Linked DNA regions of Homo sapiens. The protein of the gene in region 3 purifies or fractionates together with the protein of the main gene of each other region. This does not show direct contact. Each region holds a gene or a part of one and is shown on either strand. Other genes may lie near its edges. The genes, in order: EFL1, SPIN1, FKBP10, TTLL12, SGSH, DNAAF5 and PPME1.

What was found.
Region 1: the proteins of FKBP10 (region 3) and EFL1 fractionate together in Homo sapiens (co-fractionation; one large-scale study listed by BioGRID). This does not show direct contact.
Region 2: the proteins of FKBP10 (region 3) and SPIN1 fractionate together in Homo sapiens (co-fractionation; one large-scale study listed by BioGRID). This does not show direct contact.
Region 4: the proteins of FKBP10 (region 3) and TTLL12 fractionate together in Homo sapiens (co-fractionation; one large-scale study listed by BioGRID). This does not show direct contact.
Region 5: the proteins of FKBP10 (region 3) and SGSH fractionate together in Homo sapiens (co-fractionation; one large-scale study listed by BioGRID). This does not show direct contact.
Region 6: the proteins of FKBP10 (region 3) and DNAAF5 fractionate together in Homo sapiens (co-fractionation; one large-scale study listed by BioGRID). This does not show direct contact.
Region 7: the proteins of FKBP10 (region 3) and PPME1 fractionate together in Homo sapiens (co-fractionation; one large-scale study listed by BioGRID). This does not show direct contact.

The regions. Positions count from the first base shown.
Region 1 is NC_000015.10:82,259,846-82,264,510, forward strand, and holds the start of EFL1 (elongation factor-like GTPase 1), read right to left. Parts: upstream 2,890-4,665; 5' UTR 2,769-2,889; intron 2,684-2,768; exon of another isoform or gene 2,292-2,683; intron 1,953-2,291; 5' UTR 1,934-1,952; coding exon 1,843-1,933; intron 1-1,842. Other genes in the region: SAXO2 (stabilizer of axonemal microtubules 2), read left to right, coding at 3,035-3,087. UniProt on the Homo sapiens protein: GTPase involved in the biogenesis of the 60S ribosomal subunit and translational activation of ribosomes.
Region 2 is NC_000009.12:88,461,198-88,465,093, reverse strand, and holds part of SPIN1 (spindlin-1), read right to left. Parts: intron 2,599-3,896; coding exon 2,345-2,598; intron 1-2,344. UniProt on the Homo sapiens protein: Chromatin reader that specifically recognizes and binds histone H3 both trimethylated at 'Lys-4' and 'Lys-9' (H3K4me3K9me3) and is involved in piRNA-mediated retrotransposon silencing during spermatogenesis.
Region 3 is NC_000017.11:41,819,504-41,823,399, reverse strand, and holds the end of FKBP10 (peptidyl-prolyl cis-trans isomerase FKBP10 precursor), read right to left. Parts: intron 3,871-3,896; coding exon 3,725-3,870; intron 3,132-3,724; coding exon 2,939-3,131; intron 2,694-2,938; coding exon of another isoform or gene 2,637-2,693; intron 2,454-2,636; coding exon 2,311-2,453; intron 1,747-2,310; coding exon 1,583-1,746; intron 1,178-1,582; coding exon 992-1,177; 3' UTR 187-991; downstream 1-186. UniProt on the Homo sapiens protein: PPIases accelerate the folding of proteins during protein synthesis.
Region 4 is NC_000022.11:43,166,122-43,170,530, forward strand, and holds the end of TTLL12 (tubulin--tyrosine ligase-like protein 12), read right to left. Parts: intron 3,448-4,409; coding exon 3,379-3,447; intron 2,792-3,378; coding exon 2,653-2,791; intron 2,039-2,652; coding exon 1,887-2,038; 3' UTR 501-1,886; downstream 1-500. UniProt on the Homo sapiens protein: Negatively regulates post-translational modifications of tubulin, including detyrosination of the C-terminus and polyglutamylation of glutamate residues. Also, indirectly promotes histone H4 trimethylation at 'Lys-20' (H4K20me3).
Region 5 is NC_000017.11:80,217,509-80,221,955, reverse strand, and holds the start of SGSH (N-sulphoglucosamine sulphohydrolase isoform 1 precursor), read left to right. Parts: upstream 1-1,622; 5' UTR 1,623-1,642; coding exon 1,643-1,730; intron 1,731-4,447. Other genes in the region: SLC26A11 (sodium-independent sulfate anion transporter), read right to left, coding at 162-395. UniProt on the Homo sapiens protein: Catalyzes a step in lysosomal heparan sulfate degradation.
Region 6 is NC_000007.14:782,199-786,094, reverse strand, and holds part of DNAAF5 (dynein axonemal assembly factor 5), read right to left. Parts: intron 579-3,896; coding exon 442-578; 3' UTR 1-441. UniProt on the Homo sapiens protein: Cytoplasmic protein involved in the delivery of the dynein machinery to the motile cilium.
Region 7 is NC_000011.10:74,230,273-74,234,168, reverse strand, and holds part of PPME1 (protein phosphatase methylesterase 1), read right to left. Parts: coding exon 3,770-3,896; intron 3,258-3,769; coding exon 3,167-3,257; intron 1-3,166. UniProt on the Homo sapiens protein: Demethylates proteins that have been reversibly carboxymethylated. Demethylates PPP2CB (in vitro) and PPP2CA. Binding to PPP2CA displaces the manganese ion and inactivates the enzyme.

The DNA.
Region 1 (4,665 bases), on a different chromosome or scaffold from region 3:
GGAATCTCTGTATTGTTCAAACCAGAGACCAATGAGTAGGAGAACTGAAGATATTTAACACTGCTATCTGTCTGCAATGTAAATATGTATTAGCATATAATCCTAGAGCATCACTTTCCTGCTACCCAGTAAAGCTGAATTTATTCTAAGTACACCAAGTATATACCTCCCTAGAAAATAATTATCAAGCAAGCAGGAACTTTGCTTTATTCACAGCAGTATCCCTAGGACCAGAACAACGCTTGTCATATAGAAGACCTTCAGAAAATACTTGTTGAATGGATGAATCCCAGGTTTTTTAGGATAGTAGCAGCTTAACATAATTTTAAACAATACATTTAAAGTAATTTGTTACACCCCACTAACTTTCCACTTGAATAAATTCATAAAGAAAAAAAAAACCCTTTTATCAGCCTTCACATTCTCAAAATGTGAGCAGTAAAATTATAAAAACTCATGGAGGCAGGGGTTACTCACTGGATTTGTACTAAAACTCATTCACAGCTGGCTTCACTTGTAAGTGATCCACTATCTGTCTTTCTGTCAGTTTCCATACTCACATTACTTCAGCTCTTCTATCAATGACAACAGCCACCTAATCTCTGACTTTGGATCCATCCTAAGCATGTCTACCAATCTAATCTTTCTCATGTTTTATTTGATTACATCATTCCTGCTCCATGTTTTCCCCCAAAGGCTCCCTACTGCCTAATAGTAGACATTAATGATCGTTTTCATGGTGAAGCGTTTACCTTCCCTCTCATTATTATCACATTTAATCCTATAGCCTATAAAGCAGGTATAGTTTTCATCCTGTTTTACAGATGCTGTATATTGAAGCTCAAAAAGGCAAGGTATGTAACTTGAAAATGGAGATCTGAACTTAGGTTGTCTAACTCCAGAGCTGGAGCACTCAACTCTTATCCCAGTTCCTAGCTGGCATGAGCAGCTCTATGAGATATGACTCAGCCTGCTTCTTCACCTCGCCAACTGGTCCTTCATCTTCAGGATGGTAAATATGTTTTATTTCATATGCCCATCCCAATCACTTTGCTGTGGTTACCTAAACTACCAAGAGGTTTGAAATCAAGAGGAGGCTTAGCATGAAGGAGCGCTATGGAGTTACAGCAGTATCTGTCAGAAGAACATACCATGGGTTAGCTATCTCTGCCTTTCCCATATACTGGGCTTTGACCACATATATTTCCCTCTCCCCTTGATGACACATTCCCACCTGTAATGATTATCTCCATTTGTCATCTTGAGCCCCCTTCAAGTGTCATCTCTAATACTAATTATGTTGTGAGGTCTTTTCCTAACCCCTCACTTCCTAATCCTCTAGTTCTCCCAACCTTAGAGTCTACTTTTTTCTCTTGTTTGTCTCATTTTGCTCTGCTCCCCGTTAAAACCTCCCCTGGGCTAGTGCCCTACTCATAAATCTCCACCTTCAGACATACTAAGCAAAATATCTTGAACTTAACAGACGTTTGATAAATATCTGATGAATTAAATAGGATCACATACCACAGACTCTAAGGACATTATGTCAAGACTACAGACATTTTATATGTAAAGCCATTTCAAAAACAAAAAATTCAAGTTCTGCTTTAAAAAACAACATGACATAATATATAGAAGAATGCTACTCACTAGGTAACCGTGTTCATTTCAAATGCTTTATAGCAAAGCAGGCTTCCCTAACATCACACAAAACTTTTAAAGAAAGAAGACTTGCTTCTTAGCAAACATCACTCTCAGCTGTCCACAGCTTCACTCCACTGAGACATACAGAGACACATCTCCCTTATTTATCAAAATAAGCCATTTAAAAAGTATTCTTACCATGGTCAACATGAGCCAAAACACAAATATTCCTGATGTTGGCAGTGTTTTTCTGGAGTTGAATCATCTTATCCAAACTGTTGAGCACCATGATTACTTATTTCCTGTGACTAAAAATTAAATATGTATTACAAATGGCCCAGAGGCTAAAGGTCGGGGCAAAAGAAAAAAATAATAATAAACGCTGGGAGGTGGCAAGCTTCTCAAACCCCTTAAACCAAGAACCCAGTGAATGTTTATTGATGAGATAGACCACCAAGGCCTAAGTCCAGTTCGAGCACTAAAGTCAGTATCCTACCACGATTACACTTAAGGAGTTTGCTCATCCTTCCGGATCCAAAGGCTGCGATGAATCACGCAGCTCGAGGGGACTGGGTGCACAGTGACACCAGTAACCCTGCCGGTGGAGGAGTACTCCAGTAAACATCTCCAGGCCAATGACCACGTACAGGAAGGGTTGCATCCAGGAGGGAGAGAAAATGCTGAAGAAGATGCTCCCTTTCTCTCTTCAGTCTTCCCCCAAGTCCCTCATTCTGACATTCTCGCTCGTCCTCGCGCGAGGTCAAATACCCAGCTTTATTCCTGCCCATGGAGCCCGAACAAAGTTTTGGGTCACGTGCTTATTATCCAAGCAGGTGCACTGCCGGTCTTTCATTCCTTTCTAAATAAAAAGGAAAAACCTCTACACTACATGCCCTTCATTTCTGCAGGGTCCCAGATTCGTTCTCTTTGAGGATCCTGGGTCCACACAGACAGGCGACCGCCCCGGCCCCAGACGGGAAGCGGCACTCCGGGGACCGAAGCTCCCAGCCCGCGCTCGGCCCCAGCCCCTGTTCCCGCCTCAGAGCCGCAGCGAGCGGGTTCCTCCGGCACCGCCCAAAGGCTGGCCTAGGAGGTTCCAGCCCCCAGCGCCAGCCCACACTCACCGGCTGCAGCAGCCCCACCAGCCCCGCTCCTTCTCTCGGGTCGCACCCACACCGAGAGCTTCCGAAAGTCCGAGAGCTCTGCGGGTCCGACACGCCCGCGCGCCAGGGGGCGGGGCCGGCTGTCGCTCGACCTTTCACCCGCACGTCTCTGACGCCGCCGGAAGCCGGCGCCGAGTCTGTCACCGGGCATCCCTCTGTTGCCTTGACTACGGCGGGCGCTGTGGGAGTGGAGAAGCTGCAAGTGCTGAGGCGCGGTGGAGGAAAGCATGGGAGCCAAGAGTATGAGGAGCTGGTGTCTGTGTCAGATTTGTAGCTGCGGGTAAGAAACGGCTGGTGTAGCGGCGGGCCCGGGCTTGGGAGCCGACCTAGGGCCTAGGTGCACGGAGCCGGCTCCTCGGGAACCCTGAGAGTGGCCGTCCCCCGGAGATGAAGGGACGAGGGCGCAGCGACATCCCCACTTATCCCGCTCCGCGAATACTCGCTCCTCACCCGCCTGCTACCCGGGGGTAAAACGTTTGTTCGTAGCCCCTGAGACTCCCAATCAAGGATGCAAAGTAAAATGCCACCCGGGCCAGGTAAGTAATATATGTGAAGCCGCGACGGGATATAACGCTGGTGAGTAGTGGGATGTGATCCGACTGGGAGAGTGCATTTCCACCCCATAATCCCCCACCACGAAGATGAGAAAGAACAGTGCTCAAGGCCCTGAGTCTGCAACCCATATCACATTTTCTTTCATCTGTAGCTTTCTGTCCTCCCAGCCAGACCATATTCCCATTCCCGTCCAGGCAGCAGTTCTTTGGGATCCGCCTGACTGAAAAGTCAGTAAGTAGTCCCTACCCTGAAATCTAGAATCCAACTGTGAGTCCTGCCTAACAACCTTCCATCACCTGTAAACACAGTCCTCTCCTTCCTCAGCTTCACTATTGACCCAGGGATTAGATCATTATTTGCTAAGTAAATATGAACGTTGTCAATCCCTGGTGTATTTGTAATCCCATTCAAAGAAAACACCTACATGTTGATGGAAAGCAGTTTTTTTAATAGTCTCATAATAAACACAGTTCATAATTATATATAGATTAAAATATCAACAAATTAACTTTGGGTGTATGAATCCTCAGACTGGTGTGCAGGAGAAAATTTTTACTTTTCTCCTAATTTATATTCAACGCAAGTTCCTTTCTCATTCAACTGTAAGGAAATTCAGTCTTCATTATGTTGAGGGCCACCATTGGAATGGCGTGATTTTACTTCTTGTTTGTTTGTTTTGGGCTGTGGTTGTTAGTTTTGTCTTTTTAAGGGTTTATTTTTATTTTTTGACAATGCAATAAATACACAAGAAGTATCATAAAAATCTAAGCAAAAATATCTATAATATTGTAAAACGCCTTCATAATTCTATCTTCCACAGATAACAAATGTTCTTTAAGACTTGTTTTACATATGCATTGATTTTTTTTTTTTTTTTTTTTTGAGACAGAGTCTGGCTCTCTTGCCAGGCTGGAGTGCAGTGGCGCAATCTCGGCTCACTGCAATCTCCGCCTCCCGGGTTCAAGCAATTCTCCTGCCTCAGCCTCTCTGAGTAGCTGGGATTACAGGCTCGTGCGACCACACCCAGCTAATTTTTGTATTTTTAGTAGAGACGGGGTTTCACCATGTTGGCCTCCATCTCCTGACCTCATGATCTGCCTGCCTCGGCTTCCCAAAGTGCTGGGATTACAGGCGTGAGCCACTGCGCCTGGCCTGCATTGATTTTTTTTTTTTTTTAACAAAAAAAGAGAATATTCTGAGCATACTATTCTACAATCCGGTTTTTTACTATTTACAATCTCACCAACTTCCAATGATCATGCATAAAGACCACCCTCATTCTCTTAAATAACTGTATACTATT
Region 2 (3,896 bases), on a different chromosome or scaffold from region 3:
CTTAAAGGAAATCCTGTCACACGTTACAACATGAACCAACTTTGAGGACATTATGCTAAGTGAAATAAGTTACTCACAAAACAAATACTGTGTGATTCCACTTCTATGAGATATCTAGAATAGTCAAATTCATAGAGACAGAGTGTAGAATGGTGGTTGCCAGGGGCTGGGAATGGGAGGAAAGGTAGGTTGTTTTGTTTAATAGGTAGAGAGTTTCAGATTTGTAAGATGAAGTAGTTCTGGAGATCTGTTTCAACAATGCGAATGTACTTAACACACTACTGAACTGTACACTTAAAAATGGTTAGGACAGTAAATTTTATGCTATGTTTTTTTACAATTAAAAAAAAAGTAGTTAGTCTTGCACTTTGAATAGCTCTTTCACCAATGCATGATGTGGTACCATGCACTGCTCATAAAGAAAATATTGTGTTCACTAAGTTATGCAAATCTTCCAAATAGATAGTGGGAAACTCCACTGTGTAATTGAGAAAAAGAGAGAGTGAAAAGCGCGAATTACAGCTTAACAAAATGAAAATATTTCTGACCTTGCAAATCTCCTGAATGGGCTTCAGAGAACCCAAGGGTCCCCAGGCCTTGCTTTGGGAACCACTGCTCTGTGACATCACATGCATTCTGGCTGACTGACTTTTTTCTCTAACTTTAGCTTAAGAAAAACATAATTTTAATTATACTCTAATGTACTGCCTGAAGCAATTGCTTCCGACGTAAAACGTAAGTGAAGAGCAAGTAATTTTTTAGACTAAAGTAGGTTGATGCCAAAGTAACTGCTGTTTTGGCCATTACTTTCAATTTCAATGTCAAAAACCGCAATTACTTTTGCACCAACCTAATACCACGAATACTAAAATTAATAACAACTATTAGCTGAATTAGGCATATATATTGCTGATTTACAGAAAAGCTCTTGGGTTTCTTTTTATATTGCTTGAATGTTTACAAAATTACTATTGTTGGAAACAGAGATAATACCAAACTACAAACAACATGGAACCCTTAGTCCCATCACCAGAGATACTTGTACAGTTTCTATCCTTCGATGACAAAAGGACCAACAACCACAGGTCATGCAGCAATATGCAGGAACCTTCAAGTGAGCTAGCTGTCGTCTCAGAAGGGGCAGAGACTAAAATTCTGCTGTTAAGATTTTTAATATGTTAAAGTTTCTTATATGGGAAATGGATTAATGCCATGATCAAGAAGAAATGTAGGATGTGCATCAAGAGGAAGAGCAGGTGATCAGTCACACTTAAGAATAGATGAGAATGTTGAAAATAACAAAGACTTAATATTACTTTTAGGAGTAATAATAAAGATTTAAATTTAAAGAAAGATTTCTTTGAAAACTGAACCATATTTATACAGATGAGCAAGGATTTAGCATTTGATATCTAAAGAGAAGAGTAAAACAAAATAACTTGCTACTAAGGCAGAATTAACTTCCTAAGGAAACTCGTTATATCCCAGGGACACAATGGCACAGTCTGAAGAAAAACAAAGCGAGGAGACTGAACTAATTTCTTCCTGTGACAATTTGATCCCAAAATTCCTACCTCCCAAGTCTAGATCTGCTGAAACTTTATTATTTAATGGTATAGACTTATAAAGACAATTCTAAAAGTATAAACCAATATTTTAAACAAGAGCAGCATCACTGTAATAAGAAAATATTTCAAAATAAATACTTCAAAAAAAAGTAATATTAGTTTGGGTGTATCCCACCCTACTAATAAAATCAGTAATTATTATTTACCTTAGACCTTATGCCTTAAGGAACACTTGCAGGGCAAAACTGGCACTGTATGACATTTAAAAAGAGCCATTCATTTCCACAAACATTGTTCAATCAAGCTCTGTGTATAATAAAGACCACGTTTTGGTTGTTTAAATTTTGGCTCAAAGTACAATTATCATTTACGTTGTACACAAAGATACACTTTCACAGAAAGATTCTAAAGGCACAGCATTCTCTTATCTTTTGTATCTGATGAGATGAGATTAACATATAGGATATTTCAGCTACTGATAACCTTACCCATCAGAGTCCAGAGAACAGTGAGCAAAAATGTTAGAAATAACCGTATTATAAATTATTACGTGGCAAACTTCTTGGGGGGAAAATACACATCTCTATATCCCTCACACAGTTCCTTGAACTGCTTAGGATCCATTTTTGTGGTTTTCGGTGATTTAATATAATGTTTATCAAGAAGGGTGCTTGTGTTCCAATAAAAGTGAAGTATTAATAATGTAAAATAAAAAAAGCATCCAGTTCAATATCATTTTTAAAGTATATAATGCACAAATTATAAAAAGAACTTACCAACTCTATCAGGGAGGACTTCAAGCGCAGAAACTCTTTCATCTTTATTAAGTTCTAGTCCATAAACACAGTCAAATCCATCGTATTTTATAAGATACAAAGAAGGATTTACAGGCACCTGGTCCAGAACGGTTCCTTTCCACTGGGTAACAGGGCCATTCCCCTCTTTCCACCCATGCTGAATCCTGCAGCCTACGATGTTCCGCCGGGGCTGGGAAACAGGTTTGCTCGGACCCACACTGCTCCGATGTTTTCTGTATTCACACATATACACACATAAGGTATTATCTCAAAAGTATGCATGCCTAGATCTAACATAACCGCTGGCTAGCATGATCTCATTACAGATGGTCCCAAAATATGTACAAACTCATGTTTGCCACATTCCTGCTTCAGGTGACTCAAAGTGGTTGTCCTCTACCCCTGTACCAGTGGTGGTGAGTGTGTAACATGGTATGTTAGTAATAGGAGCTTGTTGTGCACCTCAACTGTGTATAGGCAGAAAAAACTACTAGTCAATAGCAACTTAAGCCCTACTATTAAGCATCAGGTTATCAGCTTTCTGAGTTTATTTTAATTCAATCAACTCAAAATTTTCCAAGTTAATTAAAGAAGGACTGATCCGTGAAATACATGTTATCAATAATCACACAGGTATATAGTTTTATATAATATCTACTTCAAGTTAAAAAGAAATGTGTAACTATTCAATTTCACCCATTCCCGTGCCCAAATAATTCTGCCTGTACAAGCTTAACTAATAAAAATAAACTAGACAATTTTCTCTTAAACTGAAGTCCAGACTAGCTTATATCAATGCACTATAGAAACATTACTTGTCTAGAAAACATATAATCTTAAAACTGAAGTTTATAACAATGTAATATTAAAAATTATTGAAACATCAAACTACTTTTTTTCTGGCTTATTATTAGCAATTGAAAAATCCACACAGAATGTTTATAAATAATACACCTGGCTCTTGATATCAGGAAAAAATCTTCATTTCACCTTAAAACCCTGGCTTCTTGGATGCAAGCTGAAGGTCAAAACCAAGATAACAGATGCTGATATACGCCAAGAACAAAAAGACCTGAAAGGAATTCCCTTCCCACAGTTTTATGGGTATAAAGCTCTCATTTCGTACACCATGAATAAAAGTGATTAATATCTGACATATAACACAAATAAGTTTTAAAGAAACAATTTATTGTAGGTTGTAACAGCTAAAACTAAAATTATATATTTTCTAAATAGAAATAATTTACTCTAGACTGGTAACATATATTTAGCTAAGTCAGACGGGAACAGGCCATAAGAGACAATAAGGAGTACTCGCCGCAGAAGGGAAGCTTCTCTCCTGGGGGTGAAAAACTAAGCAAGGGGGTCTGAACCTAACCAAGGAGACTGGGAGGAGATTCACAGGGTTAAGTGCAAGACTGTAAGGCCAGAAAACCCAGGTCTGCCTAAGCCCCTTGGGACTGTGCAAAAACCCAGCAAACCTTCCTTCCAGAAAGACAAAGCCCTTCTGAGTACACAATCCTTACTGACC
Region 3 (3,896 bases):
AGGAAACCTCCAGATGGGGAGCCCCTGACCTGGGGACATGCTGTCTGGAGCTAATGAGGCCATGGAAACAGCCTGGTTTAACTTTTTCCCCAATCTCTGGGTCTAAAGGCCTCCCACAATCCCCACTTCATCCCCTAGCCATTCCCCCCTGCCCCTCAACCTGGTCCAAAAGACACCCTAAGGCCATTGGTTTAATCTTTTATTTGGAACAAAGGAAAAAAGGACTGACACCAGTTTAGCCTTTGAGTGTGCAGAGCTCTGCCCTCCCTCCCACCCCTCAGCCCCAAATCCAAGATTTCATAGCCCTAACACCCACCCAAGCAGCTTCCCTCACACATGCCCTTTGTTTTCTTCCTCTCTTCTATGGTTCCTTAGGGAAAGGAGCCTTCTTTAGGGATGAAAAGCTAACTACAGCCCAGTCTGGCCTCCAGCAGCCCAGGGTCAGCTCAGCCTCCACTGGAGGCGAGGGAGGAGGGCAAAGGGCATGGGAGAGGTAGGGCTGCCCTCCAGGAGCCTTCCCCTTCCCTAGGAGCCAGTCAGGATTGGGGAGGAAGGCAGAGGGGTCCTAGGGAGCTGTCACATAGAGGAAAAGGGGCTGGGAGTGGGGATGACAAGAAGTACAAAGAAAGAGAAAGTTTGGGGAGATGGATAACAAGCTCAGCTGTGTCAGTGATGTGGAGGGGAGGTATGGTGGGGGACCAGCCATGGCCCTATCCAACCCCAGGCTCCACAGGCCCCAAATTGGCTTTGCAAATCCAAACATTTTAAGGAAGTGGTTTAGGGATGGAAGAGAAACACGGTAGAGGTCTGTGCTGTGGATTTTCATCTAGGGTGGTGGGAACACCAGAGATGTCTCCTCTGCCATTGTTTTAGTTGGCTCCTGGACCTCATCCCAGCAGAGGGAGGGTGACTGTCAGCAGGTCAGTCCCACCGCCACTGTCCCCCTCGCAGTGGGCCTCTGTGTCTCAGGCCTGGCCAGGCTCCCTGCCCCTCAGAGCTCCTCGTGGACCCGCTCCTCGTCCTCATCTGACTTCAGCTTGAGCTCGTCGACTGTGATCTTGCCGTCCTGGTTGCGGTCCTGGTTCTGGAACATGTCTCCTATGGTTTTCTCAGGGTCCTGCCCAGGCATGAGGCGTCCTTTGCCCTCACTCACTTGAGCCTTGATGAAGGTGGAGAACTGGGGCAGGGGAGAGCCGGGGGAGCGGGCAGTGAGGGTCATGGCCTTGGGAGGGGCAGGGGCCCCGGGTGGAGGCCAGTGAGTGCTTTCTTTTTCTTCTTTTTTCCCAGGCTCCCCCGCACCCTGTAACTCAGGAAGGGCTGGGAAAGGCACTGGTGCTGGGGTCCTGGTGGGGGCTGGGGTGGAGGCGTGGCATGGGGATAGTCTGTGACTGGTCTCAGGTAGGGAACAGCCTGCATGTGTGCCCAGGAAAAAGCAGGGACAAGGAGCCTGAGGCGTGGGACTCAGCGCAGGCAGGAGCACCAGGGCGGGTGGGCAGTCCGGACGGGGGACGTCTTCTTCCTCGATGCTTCCTGGGTGCGGGGATTGCGTGGGCATGGCTATTAGGACTGAACCTTCACCCACCTCCTCCGGAGGGACCTCGCCATCCTTGTTGAGGTCCATGTCTTCAAACAGGTTGGCAGGAGGGTCCTTGTGCCACACAAACAGGTAGCCTGTGGGCAGCCCATCCTCCCGGGACACCAGCTCCACCTCAAACAGCAGCACAGCACTGCCTGGGACTCCCCGGGCTGGAGGGAGGGCAGGAGAGAAGGGAGGGGTCCTAGTCAGGCCGGGGTCTGGGCCTGGCTTCACTGTTTCCCAGCCCACAGGCCAGTTTCCCCTCCTGGGGCTGGGCTGGAGAGTGGGGCATGGGATGTTTAAGGAGCCATCCTGAAGGCATTCCTGACTCCTCCCACCAGTCATCAGACCCACAGTGGGCAGGAGCAAAAGGGACAGATGCCAGTCAGATTACGGTCTCGGGCCGAGCGCAGTGGCTCATGATTATAATCCCAGCACTTTGGGAGGCCAAGGCGGGTGGATCACCTGAGGTCAGGAGTTCAAGACCAGCCTGACCAACATGGCAAAACCCTGTCTCTACTAAAAATACAAAAATTAGCTGGGCACGGTGGCAGGTGCCTGTAATCCCAGCTACTCGGGAGGCTGAGGCAGGAGAATCACTTGAACCTGGGAAGTGGAGGTTGCAGTGAGCTGAGAGCACACCACTGCACTCCAGCCTGGGTGACAGAGTCAGACTCCATCTCAAAAAAAAAAAAAAAAAAAAAAAAAAAAAGATTATGGTCTCAGCCCCTCACCTCCACTCTCCCCGTGGGCCAGGTGCGGGGGCACGATGAGCTGCCGCCTCTCTCCCACACACATGCCCTGCAGGCCCGTGTCCAGGCCTTCGATCACCTTGTTGGCCCCGAGAGTCGCCTCCTGGGGGGCCCCGTAGTCATGCCTGGGGGAGAGCAGATGCCCAGGTCAGCAGCCACCCTGTCCCCTGCCAGCGCACACCCCTCTCCCTCTGAGGTGGGCCCAGAACAAGCCCTCAGTTCCGGAGTTACTCCCACTGGTGACTTGGGCCACGCAGCAGAGTGCAGGGGCCCAGCTGTGCAGACGTGGGGTTCCCTTCTCATCTTGCCTCTGCCCCCTAAAGTGTGGCCTCGAGGGCTCATGGCTCCCTGCGTCAGTTTCCCCTCTGTGAAATAGAAAGAGCAGTTCTCCCCCAACTGTTGGCTTCACCTTCCCTTCCCCTGCGAAGCAGAGAATTTCATCTCCTCGACATGCTCCGAGATGGGGACTTACAGAAAGCAGCAAGAGGTTGAATGCTCCCCTGGCGCTCGAGGACCAAGAGGGAGGAGCAGGCGTCGGGGGTGCACTGAGGAGGACTCCCCATGCCTGTGCCCACCCACCTGCCCAGTCCCGGCCCCCCCCCGGACCCACGAGGTGAACAGCTGGGTGCCGTCCAGCAAAGAACAGTTGTAATGGTATCGAACAAAGTCCCCAAGCTTGGTGGTCTCATTGCAGGTCTCAGATGGCCGGGACAGTGTCCTGATTTCCACCACATCCGCAGGGTTGTGGAAGTCAATGACATGGACGTTGAAGATTAGCACGGCAGAGCCAGGGATCTTGTCTCCTGAGGCCAGAATGGGGGAGTGTGGTCAGCTCAGAGCACTAGGAGAGGCTACTTGAGGTCTCTCCATGGAGGTCCCCAGACCTGATACCCCTTCCCGACCCTGAGGATCCAAAGGAGGATGGGACGGGATGTTTGTCCAGAGTCAATTCTAACAAACTTTCACTGGGGCAGGGGGCAGGGGAAGGCAGCTTTCCAGTAAGAAAGCCCTTTTCCACTCACCGTCTTGCAAACTCCCAGTAACTTACCCTGCGGATCAGCATGGCTTGCCCACTTGACAGGTGAGGACACTGAGGCTCCCAGCACAGCTGGGTCCTGGGGGTATGCTGGTTCTGTTTTTCCATAACCACCCTCCCTCCCCAAACTTGGCTGCCCTTCTCCACTGCGGAAGGGGCGAAGTGGGGCGCTGCCCTGGAGGAAACCGATGGAGTCTGTGTGGCAGGAATCAGATGGGGTGACCAGATGTAAGCTGCATGCATGTTTTTGTGATGAGAGGGGCCGAGCGGTGCCTGGAATCCCACTGTGGGAGGGGGTGGCCTAGACACAATGGGCAGTTCGGAGGAGGAGCTGAGGTGGTGGCTGGGGAACGCCCCTACCAGTTCCATTCTCCCCATAGGCGAGGTGCGGGGGGATGGTAATTCTCCGGCGTTCCCCCATGCAGGCACCCTGCAGCCCCTGGTCCATCCCGGGGATGATGTAACCCTGCCCGATATAGGTATTGTAGGTGTGGTTGCGGGAGTAGCTGCAATACAAGGCGGGAGGGCCAGG
Region 4 (4,409 bases), on a different chromosome or scaffold from region 3:
ATCTCTTGACTTTGTGTGACCTGTTCTCTGTCCTGCCTCGGCCTCCCAAAATGCTGGGATTATAGGCGTGAGCCACCATGCCTGGCCTGCCTTCTGAGTCTTAACCTCCTTGGTCACCATGTGGCGCTGCTTCCACCCACTGACGGTGTCCATGCACCTGCTCAGCAGTGGCCCGAGGAGCCCTGCAGACGCCCCAGCAGCCAGGGTTTCTCACCGTCCCCACCCCAGGACAAGGAGGCAAGTGTGGGGAGGCTGCTATCTCCAGGGCCACTAGAGCTGTGGGGCCACTCGAGGACCGAGGCTCCCGGCCGGCTTGGAAACAGATCCAGCACATGGAAATCAGACTGTGGGGTGGAGGCCTGCGATATAAAGGCCATCTTATTTCTTCTCCCACTTTTTGTGGGTGACTTCTTGGTATCCGGGGCTTTTCAGTGACAGCCGGGGCGACAGGCCAGGCTGAGCCTGTGGCTCCAGGGTCCAAAGAGAAAGGAGGGCAGAAATAAGAGAAGATGGCCTTTATTGCAGCACGAACTGAGGGGGACTGCATGTCCACAGCTCTCCAGGAGCTGCCAAAGGCGACGGGCCCGCCCTGCCCCTGCAACAGGCCCTCCAGGGGCTAGAGCATGGCTCCCCTCAGGAAGGGTAACGCGTGCTTGTAAACAAGGGCCCAGACAACACAGAGAGGAGAGGCAGCATCATCAGGTGCAGCTTTGCTACAAGAAAGATAGTTCTTAATTTCAAAGAGGAGACACCGCTACACCTAGCCCTGCCCTCCCATGCACTGGAAGGCTCTGGAAGTAGCTCTCGCCTGCCTGGGCAGTTAGGTCCACCCACTGCCCGTGAGCTGGGCCCAGGCACACTGCAGCCACACAAAAACGCTGGCAGCTGACTCCTAATTTCAGAAACACAATTAGAAAAGAACTGGAATTTTACATTTTTCTCCCATACATTAAAAAATAAGAAAAAGCCAACATTTTGACTGTAGACCCTGGTAGGTGGCATCTGACTTTAACCTGAAGTTCTCATTGGAATCCTTTTCTGTCTGGCGCTCCACCGCCCACAATCAGCCCCAGCCCCAGGCGCCCCTTGCCGAAGGATCCTGGCCCATCTCACACAAGGGCGGGACCCCGTGGAGTGCCCGGCGAGCAGGGCAACCACTGGGAAGACAGATACTGATTTCCCTGTTGGGGTCTGTGACCCTCAGCAAACGAAAAGGAAACGGTAACAAGACGGTGGCCTCCTGCCAGGACCTCAGCAGGAGGTTTGCTGGTGAAGGTTCTGGGTGAGCTGGAATGGGTGATAAGGCGGGCTTGCTGGGTGGTGGCCTCAGGCTGTTCCTGGGCCCCTGTCGCATAGAGCCCTGTGGGTGCAGTGTGGGGCCCCACAGCCGTCCCGGGGTCGTCCTGATGCATAAGAGCAGAGACCCCGGAAGAGAAACCCGCCTGCCCCGTGTGATACAGGGCTCCCAAACGCTTCCCGGTGGAACCCTGCTCCCGAGGACACCTTGTCTCGCTCCACGGAACCCTTCCCCCAGCACCCCCTGGAAACACAGCAGCCAGGAACAAATTCTCCATGCCAGGAACAAAGCCCTTGGCTAAACTGGAGACTCATCAGTGCACAGATGGTGGTGAGGGGTGAGGGCAGGGCGTGGGGTGGTGCTCAGCCCTGGGGACACCATCACTGTCCTGCTCTGACCCACAGGTGAGAGGAGGATGCTGTGCTCCCGGAGTGTGGCGCCGGGAGGATGGCTCGGCAGGACAGAGGCCTGGGGCTGAGGCTATGCCCAGGGCCGGTGTGGGGAGGGACATGGGGGCCTTTGCAGAAGCAGCTCAGAGAACTGAGGTTGGAATCCTGCCCCAAGCACAGGTTTTGGGGACAGCGAGTGCCTAGACAAGGCAGGTAACGTGGCAGCCACCGGGCTGGTCCAGAAACAAGGTGCTGAAGACGTCGTTGAAGAAGGTGGGGTGGTACCTGCAGGCTCGCTCACAGTCGGGGTTGAAGTTCACCTCCAGGATCTGCGGCTGCATCACCCGCCTTCCTGATGGCAAAGAGCGCAGCAGAGTGTGAAGGCTCGTTGGCCTCCACTCTGCAGGGACAGTGGCCTGGGGATCCAGCAAAGGCTGGGAGGCCATGAACCTGGGCCCTGATTCCCAGGGGATGAGCAGGACAAGGCCGGGCCTAGAACTTGGGTCTCTTGACTTTGCTGGGGAGGCCTGGCCTGACATCTGCTTCTCTAGGAGAGGCCAGGGCTGCCTCCAGCCCTAGGGATGACAGCCTGGCCCTTTAAGCTTGGATGTTCAGTTTAGTAAAAAAAAAAAAAAGTAGATATGCAGCAGCAGTGTACTGTGTGGGGGTCTGGCACAGGGAAGGCCAGCCAGGGTGGTGTGGGTTGGGGTCAGGGTGCCTTTCACACGGGTCTCCTGTCCTGTGAGCTCTCCCCCGACTCAGAGGCCCAACCCGCAGCCTTTCCCCTCCAGACTCTGCACCGCAGGCACTTCCTGTGGGCCAAGCCAGGGCTTTCCCCAACCCAGATTCCTGGCTGATTCAAGCCAGAGGACAGCCTGGGGCAGCTGCCTGCCTTCTCCAGGCTGTGGCTGGCTGGCGGAGGGGGCGCCTGCTGGTTTGGATCAGGAGATGGGGAGCCCCTCTTACCATCTGGGCCGTTGTCCCACTTCAGCATGAGGTCGACGGCATACATGGCCCGGGATGAGGGGTAGTCGCAGAGGCCCAGGGGTGGTGGCTTGGCACAGGCCACCTGGAACAGCTCCGTGAAGGCCCGGAAGATCTCAGCCTGGGGACCGGGGAGCCTGAGTTACGAGGCCTGCTCAGAACAGCCTCTCAAGAGGGGGTCTGCTGCCCCTGCCCAAGTCCCGGGCCCCACGTGGCCCAAGTCACCCCCTCCCACATCTTCACGTCTCTAGACCTCACCATGGCCACCTCCGCCCAGCACCTGCCCTCTTACTCCTGACGCCCACCTTCTGCAAATCTGCCCATCTCCTGCCGCAGACCCCGTTGCTCCCCACTGCCCCAAGGAGCTCAACACAGCACCCAGAATGCCGCTGCTGGACATGGAGGCCCAGCCAACGTCTCCATATGACTGGGAATCTAGGGTCAGGCAGTGCCGCCACCCTCTGGCTGTCCCAGGGGTGCCCCACATGCCCCTCCAGCTCCCTCCCTCTCAGGAGCACCCACAAATGCCCAGGGTGGAAGGGAGGGGAGCCCACGCTGTCTTGCCAGCCTCTGGGGAGAATGACCAACTGCAGGGGACAAAGGTCCCTCCCAGCCCATGCCAGCAGAGAGGGAAGGGAGCAGCTCCTGCAGGCCCCCAGCCCGGGACCCGCCCCACCGGCCTGCGATGGTGTGCAGGACAGGAATTACCTGGACGTCCGTCCAGGGAAATTCTGGGTATTGCTTCTCAAACTCGGGGATGAACTCTTCACAGTGCACCTGCAACAGACACAGGGCCCATCACGCTCTGTACAGGCCTCCGCTGGGCCGGGAGCAGGCAGCCTGCTACTGCCTGGACCAGGAGCTTCTGACACTGGGTGGGGGTTCCAGGAGCAGGCAGCCAACCCCGAACCCTCAGGGTCCAAACAGGAGGCAGGAGATGGAGTCTGGGCTCCAGGTCTTACTGTGTGACTCTGGACCAACGGATTAACTTCTCTGAGCCTGTTTCCTCCTCTGTGAAATGGGAAAATGTGCTCTGCCCAGTAAACTGACTTTGCCACGCAGCTGTGAGGCTCACGCGAGACAATGAACATCGAGGGCTCCAGAAACTGCAGGGCCTGGGCTGGCACCATCCTCACACTCAGCTCAGTACAGTGCGAAGGAGGCAGAGCTCAAGACTCCGCCGCGGGACCTGCCTGTGCCCTGGTTCAGCACCAGCTCAAGAGTGCTTGAGGGATGCAAGATCTTTCTGGCCTCAAGACTTTACCCAAAACACACCCGAGGAAGGTGGCAGTCGGCTCAGGTTTCTCCCAGAAAAGAACAAGCCAGGAAAGGCCCCTATGGAAGCCCGCCATCCATGCCATGCTGGACGTACCTCCCCAGGCACAGAGCTCCAGGAGAGGACTCCCGGGATGACCCCCACAGTACAGAAGGGAGGGGCTCAGAACCTGAGGGCGACTTCCAACAATGTCCTGGGGCCCTGCTGGGGGGTCTGGGTCCTAGGGAGTAGGCTTCAACACAGGCAAGGATAAGACAGACAGAAGCAACAGGACCACTCGGCCCCTGTGGGGAGTGTGTGCTGGTATAGTCACCAGTGCATGGCAGGGCCCTTTCTCCAAGTCCTCCTAGAGGACTCCTCGGACATGGGCATGGCCAGGTGCCTCCACGCATGTTCACGCGCCATGATTTATCATTAGTGAAGACCTCAGATGACCAATCGCCGCCACAGTTAGCAACAAGCC
Region 5 (4,447 bases), about 38 Mb from region 3:
CCTGGGTCGGCCCAGAGACAATCTGCGTCACACACTGTAAACCAAAGGTTCCTTGGGGCCCAGGGGCTGGAAACCTGGAATCGCTGATGGTGTCTGGGATTGATACTGTGTATTCTGCACTGTTTCTGAGATATGGCTGGCAGCAGGGTCAGACGCCTCACCTGGGGCGGGAGTCCAGCCACTTCAGCATAGGCCAGCGCCTGGGGAATGGCAGTGAGGCCAACTGAGAGGCCGGCGACGAAATCCATCTTCAGCCACTGCAGGGAGTAGCTGGGCAGCCACGCCAGGATGGGCAGCCTCCTCTGCAGGGCCGCAGGGGAGCAGCAGCAGGCGCTCGGGGCCATCCCGGGGCCAGAGGACCTGGCCTGACCCAGCGCCGTCACCGAAGAAGGCATCTCTACGGTGGGGCTGGGGGGTGCAGGTGACACAGACCAGCAGTCAGAGCGTGGCCTTTGAAGAACCCGGCAACACTGGTCAGGGTCGGCGGGTGTCAGGAGAGGTCACTATGGGTCTCCCCTCCCCAGGGGGGCGAACGGCTCTAAGAGGAAGCCAACAATGTGTGCAAGATGGGGACTGGGCCAAGACTGGAAGGCCCACCCCGTCCCTCATCACCCTCTCTCCCTGAATCCCCCCCGTGCAAATCCTGGGTGCCTTCTGTCCCTCCATCCTCAACTCTCCCAGATAAGAAACTGATAAGCGATTCCTCATTGAGAAGTCTGAAGACTAATTAGGCTCAACACTTCTGGCCCCTGGAGAACCGACTTCCTTTGCCTTTTTTTCCGTCTCCCCAGGGAATTTAACGGGGAGCAGCGCAGAGAGAAGCTGGGCCCGCGGGCGCACCGTAGGCTGGCGGGGGGTGCGGGTGGCAGCCAGGAGATCCAGCGGGGCTCCGAGGTTTTCCAACTGCGCACCAAGGCGGGCTCCACCCGCTACGGTGGACTGCGGCGCTCGAGGGAGAGTGGGGGGGTCCTCCGCTCCTGAGGCCACGCCTCGCTCAGCCCCCACCTGTGGCTTTCACAGCCCTGGAGTTCTAGTTGCTTCTGGGAGGACATCAGAGGCGCCCGGTTAATTCAGGTGCGCAGCATCTTCCAGGGCCCCGGCGCCCGCGCGCAGAGCCGCCACCCTCACCCCCAGCCCCCCACGCCCCCGGCCGCTCCGCTCCGGGCAAAATCCACTCCCCGGCCCCCGGCCCCGCCCACAAGGCCGCTGGCTCCGGATCCTGGGGTCTCCGGAGGAGACCCTGCGCCACCTGACCGTCCGCGGTCCCTTGGCCCCGAGCAAGGCCGAGGGCCGCGGGGACCCGGGTAGGGACGCGGCGGGGGAGTGGTCCCCACGGGAGGCCCCCGCACTTCAGGACTCCGCGCTGGCCCCCGCGTCGGCTGCCCCCGGCGACCCCGGCCACTGTCCGCTCCCCCTGCCCCTGGTCCCCGCTCGCCGCCCTCGCGGGCCACGGACTCACCCACTCGGCGATGCAGCTTGGGGTCTCCTGGCGTCGCCGCAGCTGGGTCCGCAGGAATCGCCGGGGACAGGCCGGGGCGGGGTCTGGCGCGCACGTGACCGGGGTCGGGGCAGGGGGCGGGGCCGAGCGGGAGACCAGAGAGCCGGAGCCGGATCCCGATCCCGAGTCCGAGCCGCCGCCGCCATGAGCTGCCCCGTGCCCGCCTGCTGCGCGCTGCTGCTAGTCCTGGGGCTCTGCCGGGCGCGTCCCCGGAACGCACTGCTGCTCCTCGGTGAGTGCCGGCGCCGCCCCCCCACGCCCACCTGCGGTGGCCCGGGGAAGTGGCCACTGGCCTCCTCCCCACCCGTGGTCAATGCTGACCCTAGTGTGCCCTGCCCTTGTATCCCCCGCTGCCATTCCCTCTCGTCCTCCTCTCTGTGCCGCCCCCAGACTCTTCACGGGTGTCTCCCCAGAGAGGGCAGCAAAGGCTGGAGGAGTGAGCCCCAGCATCCAGCACCCCTACACTTACCTCGTGCCGCCTGTCCCACCCTCCTCTGACCCTGCCCAGCCAGGGCTCAGGGGTCCACGGATCTCAAATCCCTCTTGGGAGGGGATCCCAGAGGAGGGGCTGGTGCTCCGGTCCCCAGAGACTGCAGACAGGGTGCCCTCCTGGCTCTCATTTCCGACCCCAGAGCCTGTGTCTCAGCTGTCTTTTCCCTTATCCCAAGGGCACAGCCCTCCACCACCCACCCACCACCGTCTCCCCCAACCCCAGTCCCTCTCAGAAACCCCAGGTTCCTCCAGAGCAAGCACCGTGCTGCTCACAAGACTTCCGGTTTAGGTAATCAAGGCTCTGGCTCATGACAAGTGACAAGGCCAAACCCAAGGCCTGCGATTCTTTCCCCTTCTGAGGTCTGGCGCCCTGCCAGTTGCCCTCTTTCTGATTAATTTTGTGGTCTCTGGGCGGGGGTTCGGCTCACTGTAACATAAACAGCTCTCCTGCCAACTCCTCGCCTCCCAGAAACACAGCAGAGAATCTGCATGGACCCTCACCTGCGGATCAGAATTCCTACAGGAGGCTGTCAGAGTCCAGGCTATGCGGCCCCTGGGCTAGGGCCTTTCTTAGCACGGACTGCCATGGATCGGCTTAAACAGAAATGTATTTCTCACAGTTCTGTGGGCTGAAAATCCAAGGTCAGGGTGCCAGCTTGGTTGGGTTCCAGTGAGGGTCCACTTTCGGCTTACAGGTGGTCACCCTCTCACTGTTTCCTCACATGACAAGCGGATGGGGGTGGTCTCACTTCCTTTTCCTTTCTTTTTCCTTTCTTTCCTTTTTTTTTTTTTTTTTTTTTTTTTGTGAGACAGGGTCTCACTCTGTCACCCAGGCTGGAGCACAGTAGCACAATCACAGCTCACTGCAGCCTCAATCTCCCAGGCTCAAGCGATCCTCCTGCCTCAGCCTCCCAAGTAGCTGGGACCTCAAGTGCACATCACCATGCCTGGCTAATTTTTGTATTTTTTGTAGAGACAAGGTCTCACTGTGTTGCCCAGACTGGTCTCGAACTCCTGGGCTCAAGCAATCTTCCTGCCTTGGCCTCCCGGGTGCTGGGCTTACGGGCATGAAACACTGCACCCGGCCCTCTCTTTCTTTTCCTTTAAGTCCACAGTCCTGTCAGATCAGGATCTCATCCTTATGATTCATTTACCCTTAATTAAGGACCCTGTCTCCAGATACAGTGATGTTGACGTTAGGGCTTCAGCATATGAATTCTGGGAGGACACAGTTCAGACCATAGCAGGCCCACAGCCAAGTGCCGAGACACTCTGGGTTTGGAGAAGGGCAGCTTTCTTCCTGGCCTGCGGGTACGGAGCACAGCCCATCCCGCTCTCCCTCCAGGTTTACGTGGCTGCCATGTGCTCACACCTGTGGGTACTGTGGGGTGGAGGATGGAAGCCCAACTGGAAGGTGCCCAGCCTCCTCTGTCCATCCATGGACCACATTGCCTCTGAGGGAGCTGGGGAAAGTGTTGGTCTGGGGGTTCCCACCAGCCTCTCCTGTGGTGCCCCCAGTGTCCTCTACTCCAGAGCAGGGGGAAGAAGCTTGGTGTGGTTGTAGGAGTTCAGCGGCCTGTCCCTGTTTCCTGCTGCCCAGTGTGTGGCCCTGGGCACTGCACCTCACCTTTCTGGGCCTCAGCTGCTTTGTGTAGGATGAAAGGGTTGAAATAGACAACCTGCAAGGTCACTAGGCCTTTGAGATGGCATCAGTGAGAAGCAGCGGTGGGACGCACACACATAGAGCTTTAGACGCGCCCTGGGCGAGGCTCTCCTGCCCTCTGCCCCATGCGGTTTCCGCTGAGCCCAGAATTGCCCAGCAGTTCTGTGGCCATGCGCTCAGCCGCTGTCTGCCTAAATGCCTAGCCGGCTAACACGCCCACCCAGGTAGCATGCCTGCTGGGGTATCATCAAGCTTGTTGGGTCATCATGCCTGCATGAGTATCTTGCCCACTTGGGTACCATGCCTGCCTGCTAACATGCCTATGCAGGTACCAGGCTTGCCTGGGTACCATGCCCATCTGCTTATACCCACCAGCTATCAGTCCAGCCTGTGTACCATGCCCACCTGCCAACATACCCACCGGGTATCATGCCTGCTTAGGGTATCATCAAGCTTATTGTGGTATGATGCCTGCTTATCATGCCCACTTGGATACCATGCCTGCCTGCTAACATACCAACCACGCATCATCCCTGCTGGATACCAGTCTACCTGCTAACATACCCACTGGTATCAGGCCTGCCTGGGTACCATGCCTACCTGCTTATACCCACCATCTATCAGTCCAGCCTCCATACCATGCTCACCTGCCAACATACCCACCATCTATCAATCAGTCCAGCCTCCATACCATGCTCACCTGCCAACATACCCACTGGGTATCAGGCCTGCCTGGGCACCCTGCCTGCTTGCTGATATACCCACCAGGTATTGTGCCTACTAGGTACCATGCC
Region 6 (3,896 bases), on a different chromosome or scaffold from region 3:
CAGTAGACAGAACCCAAAAAGAGATTTCATTTCTTTCTAATCACTTTGGCTTCTTTCTTTTTTGTTAAGTAGGTAAAAACCTTCTTGGTGGGCACCTAAGCAGGATGCAGCCAATAGTTCATGAACCAGCTGCGCACGTGAGGCTTAAAATCTAAGATGCTGCTGAAGTGGCTGCGGGAGGAGCGGCTGCGACTTACTTTTAATTTCAAATCAGCTGCAGATGTTTGGGAGCCCTCTCGATGAACAGAACAAATCACATAACATGCAGAATCCACTCAGAGGCTGTTATTCCAGGGAAAGAGTGGGCAGGTGTCCTGAGGAGTACATTCTTGCTGTCACAGTCTCACTGCTGGCACAGAGGTGCCTTGTTTATGAGATTTAAAGGCCACAAACTCTGGCTCAGGTGGGGACAAGGGTGTGCCGTGGCTGAAACCAGCGTGGTCACTGTGTGGCTGGCACGGCCTGCACATGCTGCAGGAGCTGCTCGCAGTAGGTGGCCGAGCGGTGCTTGTGGATGACGGCCTCCGTCTCCCTCACCAGGAGATCTGGGAACAGCCCGCTGCCCTCTTTGAGGACCTCTGTAAAACAGAAAAACACCTTGAACATGCCAGAAACAAACATGAAACCAATCTTACCTCTCGTGCAAATTGGCTTTGTAGTGAAGTTCAAGCATCTGTAAAAGCATCTGCAAATAACCTGACGCTGCTGGGTGGACATACAGTAGTCACAATGCGGATACGAGTGATCCGACTCACAATGTGGGGACGAATGACCTGACGCTGCTGGATGGGGACACAGTAGTCACAATGTGGATACGAGTGACCCGACTCACAATCTGGGGACGAATGACCTGACGCTGCTGGATGGGGACCCAGTAGTCACAATGTGGATACGAATGACCTGATCCTGCTGGATGGGTGTCCAGCGATCATAATGTGGATACAAGTGACCTGATGCTGCTGGCCACGTGCACGGCAGTCCCAGTGTGGACACGAGCGACCTGATGCAGCGGATGGGTGCACAGTAGTCATAACGTGGATATAAGTAAGCTGACACTCTGGACGGGTGGACGGCAGTCAGAATGTGGATACGAATGACCTGAGTCACAACGTGGACAAGTGACCTGATGCTGCATGGTCACTATGTGAATATGAGGAACCTGATGCTGCTGGGTGGGTGCACGGCAGTCACAACGTGCATTCAAAGAACTGAAAATCGCCTCCTGGCAGTTGTGGGCAGACCATGAAATGATGTCCTGCAGAGTCTTCAGGTGGCATTTTTGGGCTTAGAAACAGGTTTCACAGGAGCAAATAGGCTCAGAAAAACAGGCGACTTTCTTATCCAATTTGCGGATGCCAATTCACCTGCCGCAGTGACTGCAAACCTCCCACGGGCCAGGCATCACCGACACAGCCGGAAATGAACCCATGCTTACGGAGGGTTCATCGGGAAGCAGTGGCCGATGATGAAAATCAGGAAGGCAAACGTGTCAGGGGCTCGTGGTGGTGTGTGTGATGGGGGCAGTGGGAGCTGCAGGGGTGGGGGCCAGAAAGGGTTGGGCGTGTCTAGCTGAGGCAGGAAGAGGATGGGGAGGTTGCTGCAGTGGCTGGGGAGTCTATCAGATTCTGCTGGGAGTTAAGAGGGGGTCCAGGAGGACCTCAAGGTCTCCGCCTTCAGTCTTGAGGACAGATGGCCACTGAGCCACTGAGGGTGGCGGAACCCGGCAGGCAGTCAGGGAGGGGGGTAGCGGCCCAGGGTTCGGCACCAGGCAGCTGCACTTGTGTGTGGAGCTGAGGCCAGGAGAAGAGCTCTGAGGGAGCGGTGCAGACACAGCAGAGGAGCAGTGAGGGGCCCACATGGGCGAGGGAAAGACCAAGAGACTGAGCACGGGCGTCCCGCAGCCAGAGGAGGGTGCGTGGCCGCCAGCTGTGCCTGGCGCTGCTCAGAGGTGCAGGCAGGTGGACGGCTGCAGATGCCTGCCATGGGCCCAGGGCCTCGAGGAGGGGTAAGGCGGGCTGCTTCCAGGGAGCCTGCTGCCAGGCGGATGTGCGGTGGGGGAGGTGGGGGAGGTGGGGGCGGCGTACAGGGCATCTGTGTTTTGTTTTTTTAAAGACAGGAGAAAGAATGGCCTGTACCGTGCAGTGGGGAAGGGAGATGCCCTGTGCAGTCCTGGGGAGGCGAGAGGGCCGGGGCTGCAGGCTGAGCTGGTGCACAGGGGCACTGGTCTCCTCGGCCTAGAGCAAGGTCCTGAGGACGAGTGAGGCTGAGGCTGAGAGTAGGAGAAGCTCAGAACTCGGGTTGATGGTGTGTAGTGCAGGACAGGAGAGCTGGGAGGGCGCAGGCAGGGCTGGGATTTGCCAGGGAGTGTGGGGAGCTGGGGGCGTTGCGTGGATCTGGCAGGATGGGCTGTCCCAGCGAGGCCTGCACGTGAGCTGCTGTCCTCCTTTTAAACAATTTCCAATTGGTCTCCAATTCGCAGCTTCTTTCCGTGACCTGGAGAGACCACGGGCCCCGCCGTGGATCAATGGGCTCTGGGGCTCCCTCACTGGCTGACAACCTGATTCCACGACTCAAGGCAGGGGCTCCCGACATGGGCTCCAAGGCCCTCGGGGTCCCCAGGACCCTTCAGAGGGTCTGTGAGTCAAAGCCAGGCATGTGGTCGCACGCAGAGCATGCCCGGCCTGCCCGTCACTGTGCTCACACCTGCGCAGATGCGGGAGCAGCTGAGGCCCACGCCCCCTGCCACACTCACCCTCGAGCACACGGCTTCACCTGCCACACTCACCCTCACGCACACGGCTTACACCCGCGAGTGGGCACCAGGTGCACCGCTTCACACGGAGGACCAGGGTCGTGCAGCAGAGCTGCTTTTCCCAGGAAGAATGGCGGACGGACGAGCAGTGCACCCACCCTGGCTGTGCGGACGCGGGATCTGGCAGAGCACGGCGTGAAAGTGAACGGCCCAAGTCCCTCACTCCCAGAACAACCGACAGGGTTTGTGGCCGAGGATACAAGTCAAGCTCTCACACAAAAAATCACAATGAGCCAAAGCTTGGCCCTGCCACCACAAGCCGGACTCTTCTGAGCCTGGTGCCCACGCAGGAGAGTTTCTGACGTTGCGTAACAAGAGCAGCCACCCCAGGACGATCCGAGTTTCTGATGCCGCCGGAGGGGAGGTGGCCACGCCAGGAAGATCGAGTTTCTGACGTTGTGTGAGGGGACGCGGCCACGCCAGGAAGGTCCGAGTTTCTGATGCCGCCGGATGGGAGGTGGCCATGGCAGGAAGACCGAGTTTCTGACGCTGCGTGACGGGAGGCGGCCACGCCAGGAAGATCGAGTTTCTGACGCTGCGTGACGGGAGGCGGCCACGCCAGGAAGATCGAGTTTCTGACGCTGCGTGACGGGAGGCGGCCACGCCAGGAAGATCGAGTTTCTGACGCTGCGTGACGGGAGGCGGCCACGCCAGGAATATCGAGTTTCTGACGCTGCGTAACGGGACGCGGCCACGCCGGGAAGATCCGAGTTTCTGACGCCGCGTGACGGGAGGCGGCCACACCAGGAAGATGCGAGTTTCTGACGCCGCGTGACGGGACGCGGCCACGCCGGGAAGATCCGAGTTTCTGACGCCGCGTGACGGGAGGCGGCCACACCAGGAAGATGCGAGTTTCTGACGCCGCGTGAGGGGAGGCGGCCACGCCGGGAAGATGCGAGTTTCTGACGCCGCGTGACGGGAGGCGGCCACGCCGCGAAGAGCCGAGTTTCTGACGCCGCGTGACGGGAGGCGGCCACGCCAGGAAGATCCGAGTTTCTGATGCCGCGTGTCGGGAGGTGGCCACGCCGCGAAGATCCGAGTTTCTGACGCCGCGCGACGGGAGGCGGCCACGCCAGGAAGATCC
Region 7 (3,896 bases), on a different chromosome or scaffold from region 3:
TTTCTACCATTCACCCAATTGCTTGGGCTAAAAACCTAGAAGTCATCCTTAAGTCCCTTCCTGCCCTTCCCCGTCTCTCTCCCAACATCCAATCCATAAACCAGTCCTGTCAGTTCTACCTCGAAAATACATTAAAAAATGACTCTCTTCCTCTGTTGCCATCCTCGTCTATGTTTACCATTATTACTCTCCTTTACTATAACAGTCTCCTAACCAACTTCACACCTCATTCCCCACTTCTTCTATTTGATTTTCCTCAGAACAGCCAGAGTGGTGTAACCAAGATGCAAATTTGTATCTGTCTGACCTCAAAGCCCAGGTTTCCCCTAACTTTTTTGTTTTGTTTCGAGACAAGGTCTCACTCTGTTGTTCAGGCTGAAGTGCAGTGGCATGATCATAGCTCACTATAACCTTGAACTTCTGGGCTCAAATGATCCTCCCACCTCAGCCTCCTGAGTAGCTGGGACTATAGGCACATGCTACCACACCCAGCTAATTAAAAAAATATATATATTTTTTGTAGAGACAGGGTCTCGCTATGTTGCCCAGGCTGGTCTCAAACTCCTGGCCTCAAGTAATATTCCTATCTCAGCCTCCCAAAGCACTGGGATTACAGGTGTGAACCACCACACCTGGCCTAAAGCCCAGGTTCTTAATGACTATACCCCTGCTGCCTCTCATTAGGAAACCTATGAGAGCAAAAGCAGTAAATCATTGGCCTTATATTTCAACATAAAAAAAAATCTAGAATAGCCAAAATGGCCATCAGTCATAAACTTGATTCAGATATCCAGCAGAATAAAAAACAAAATTACCAAATACCTCATAGTATAATAATTTTCAGGTTCAGAAAGATCAATGACTCTCATGAAACCCAGAACATCTTAACATTTAACAAACAGAACCCTTATTCTATCCTGTATCTGGCAAAAGAAACAAGACTACTTTAAGAGAAGGCCTACCATGATACCCAGGCTGCATTAGGTATATCCCCTGGCTTCCTTCATTGTGTTATGTTTATGTGTTTCCTTGTTTGCATCCCCAGTTTTTTGATGATAGGAACTGAGCCTGATTCATCCCCCAGTTCTTAGATCAGGTACTGACACATCTTAGGCACTAGAAAAAAAAATTTACTGAATAAATTTTTAGAGTTCGGAAAAAGGGCCAGGCGTAGTGGCTCATACCCATTTATCCCATGACTCTGAGAGGCCGAGGCGGGCAGGCAGACTGCTTGAGCTCAGGAGTTCAAGACCAGTCGAGCCAACATGATAAAACCCTGTCTCTACAAAAAAAAAAAAAAAAAAAAAATCAAATAACAAAAATTAGCTGGGCATCGTGGTGCACAGCTGTAGTCCCAGCTACTTGGGTGGCTGAGGCAGGAGGATCGCTTGAGCCCAGAAGGTCAAGGCTGCGGTGAGAGCTGTAATCATGCCACTGGACTCCACAGCCTGGGCAACAGAGTGACACCCTGTCTCAAAAAAAAAAAAAAAAAAAGTTTGGATAAAAGTTGGATGGGCTTTAGACAACTGAGCCAAGTCTAGAATAACTTTCTCACTTGTTGTTACTGCGGAAGCAGGCAGGGCACCTGAGATACAAGCCAAGCTGGCAGCAGCTACATTCTTGATGCTATCTGCCCAAGATAGATCTTTGATATTTCTGTGAGAACAGGAATCCTGCATCACAGTAGTGAACAGGAAGTGGTAGAAACTTCACCAACACAAACATCATTCTGACAAGCCATATTCTTGCATAAGACCATTTGTCCTAGGAAAACGCCTAGGATATATTTACCAAGTCCTAAATTTCCACTTGATATCTGATTCAGTTAACAGATATATTCTGCCTGCTAGGGCAGTATGCCATATGCTATATGAAAGTAGAAAAGAAATACAGAATAGCTTCTTCCCTTATGATGCAGGAAGGGCATTAAGACAGACATTAATGAAAATTAACAATATGAGCCATATCCCTCAAGGGAGTATTGGAAAACTTAAGGGTATACAGTGCAATATAATAGAGACTTAAAGGTCTCTTGTAATTTTGCTGAAAGCGTCATCTGGGTGGTTTGGAGAACTTAAGAGAAAATGTTCTGAAGAAGAGACTGGAGATGGAGTTAGAAGAATAGGAAGGAAGATAGGATGATGAAGACATTTATCCAAAGACTGATCTCCTTGTGGGAAGGGACAGTGTTTTATTCATCTCTGAATCTTCACTCATTAGCACAAAATAAGTGTTTAATAAATACTTTATCAAATGATTAACTGAATTAATGAATAAATTCATTCCTTTGCTTAAATGGAATTCTGTCACTGATTTTTATAAAAACTATTTACCCATTGAGTTTATTTACCCAAAATCCAAATAAATTTGAGGGAATGGAACCTATAGCCATCTTCCATTTCTCCACCATTTTATCTGAAACACAGAAAGTAAATCTAAAACCATGAAGCATCAGAGGTGGATGATGCCTTAGAAACCACCTAGTCTAACCTCTTACCTCAGAGGCAGAAACAGCTAGACAGCAGATGATCAATAATTACTAAGATTCCAGGAGGTACTATAGTGTATTGGGAAAACAATGGGTTTCAGACAACTGAGCCAAATCTAAAATATTTTTAAATGTTCAAAAAATTCTGCTGTTTATATAATGTTTCCTCATATGCTATTACAATAAGGCGTGGCAACTGAAATTCTATTCCTTGAACTTGGTGCTTGACCTAAAAAAGAAGAAAAGCTACAATCTAACATTTAGAATAAAGGCAACAGTGGCTGGGCACTGTGGCTCACGCCACAACCCCAACACTTTGGGAGGCTAAAGTGGGAGGATTACTTGAGGCCAGGAATTTGATTACTTGATTACTTGAGGCCAGGCTAAAGCAGGAGGATTACTTGAAGCCAGCCTGGGCAACATAGCAAGACCTCGTTTCTACAAAAAATTTAAAAATTAGCCAGGCTTGGTGGTGTGTACCTGTAGTCTTAGCAACTTGGGAGGCTGAGGTGGGAGGATTGCTTGAACCTAGGAGTTCAAGGTTGCAGTGAGCTAGGATCATGCCACTGCACTCCAGCCTGGGTGACAGAGTGAGGCCTTGTCTCCTAAATAAATAAATAAGCAAGCAAACAAACAAACAAATTAATTAAATAAAGGCGACAAAGATTTGTTGGTTACCTCCATTCAATAGCATTCTCCAGAGACTTGAAGGTTTTAGGACGACCCCGTAAGAAATTCTGCATGCTATTAAGTGCATCCATAGCTGTACCTGGATGTTAAACAAAAACTGTAACCACATATTTAACTTATTCTGAGCATTTACACTTACTGAGTCAACTACTATATATCTGCTCTTGATGACAGCAGAATTTAGTGATGCTCGCAGAGAAATAAAGATGGCCCTCAATAATTTTTGCCTCTGGGGTATTCACTTCTTTATGTCATGCCCTCACACTGAAGAGGATGACTTGTATTCACAAGCAGCAGTGTGACTTCTGAAGCTGGGTCAGAAAAGACATGGCAGCTTCTTTTTATATGATTAAATACAATTATGGGACATACATAGGATTGAAATATTATGCAGCCATAAAAAGATGTTAATGAAGAGTTTTTGATGACATGGAAAAATGGTTATCTTGTATAAACTTAAAAAAGATATAAAGACAGAGGGACATATTTCAAGATGAATGAAATCAACAATAAACTAAGACAAGGTAATAATCTACCAAGGATGTCTCTTATAAGTGAAATCCTGATTTGGTCAGTGCTAAGAAAACTCACCTTCTACAACATCAATCATGCACAGACCCAAGAGGCTTGGTACCAGGTTGGATGATGCTGTGTGGACTGCAATAGCACCACCCATGCTATGTCCAATCAGCATAATTGGAGGAGGAAGGTCCCCATA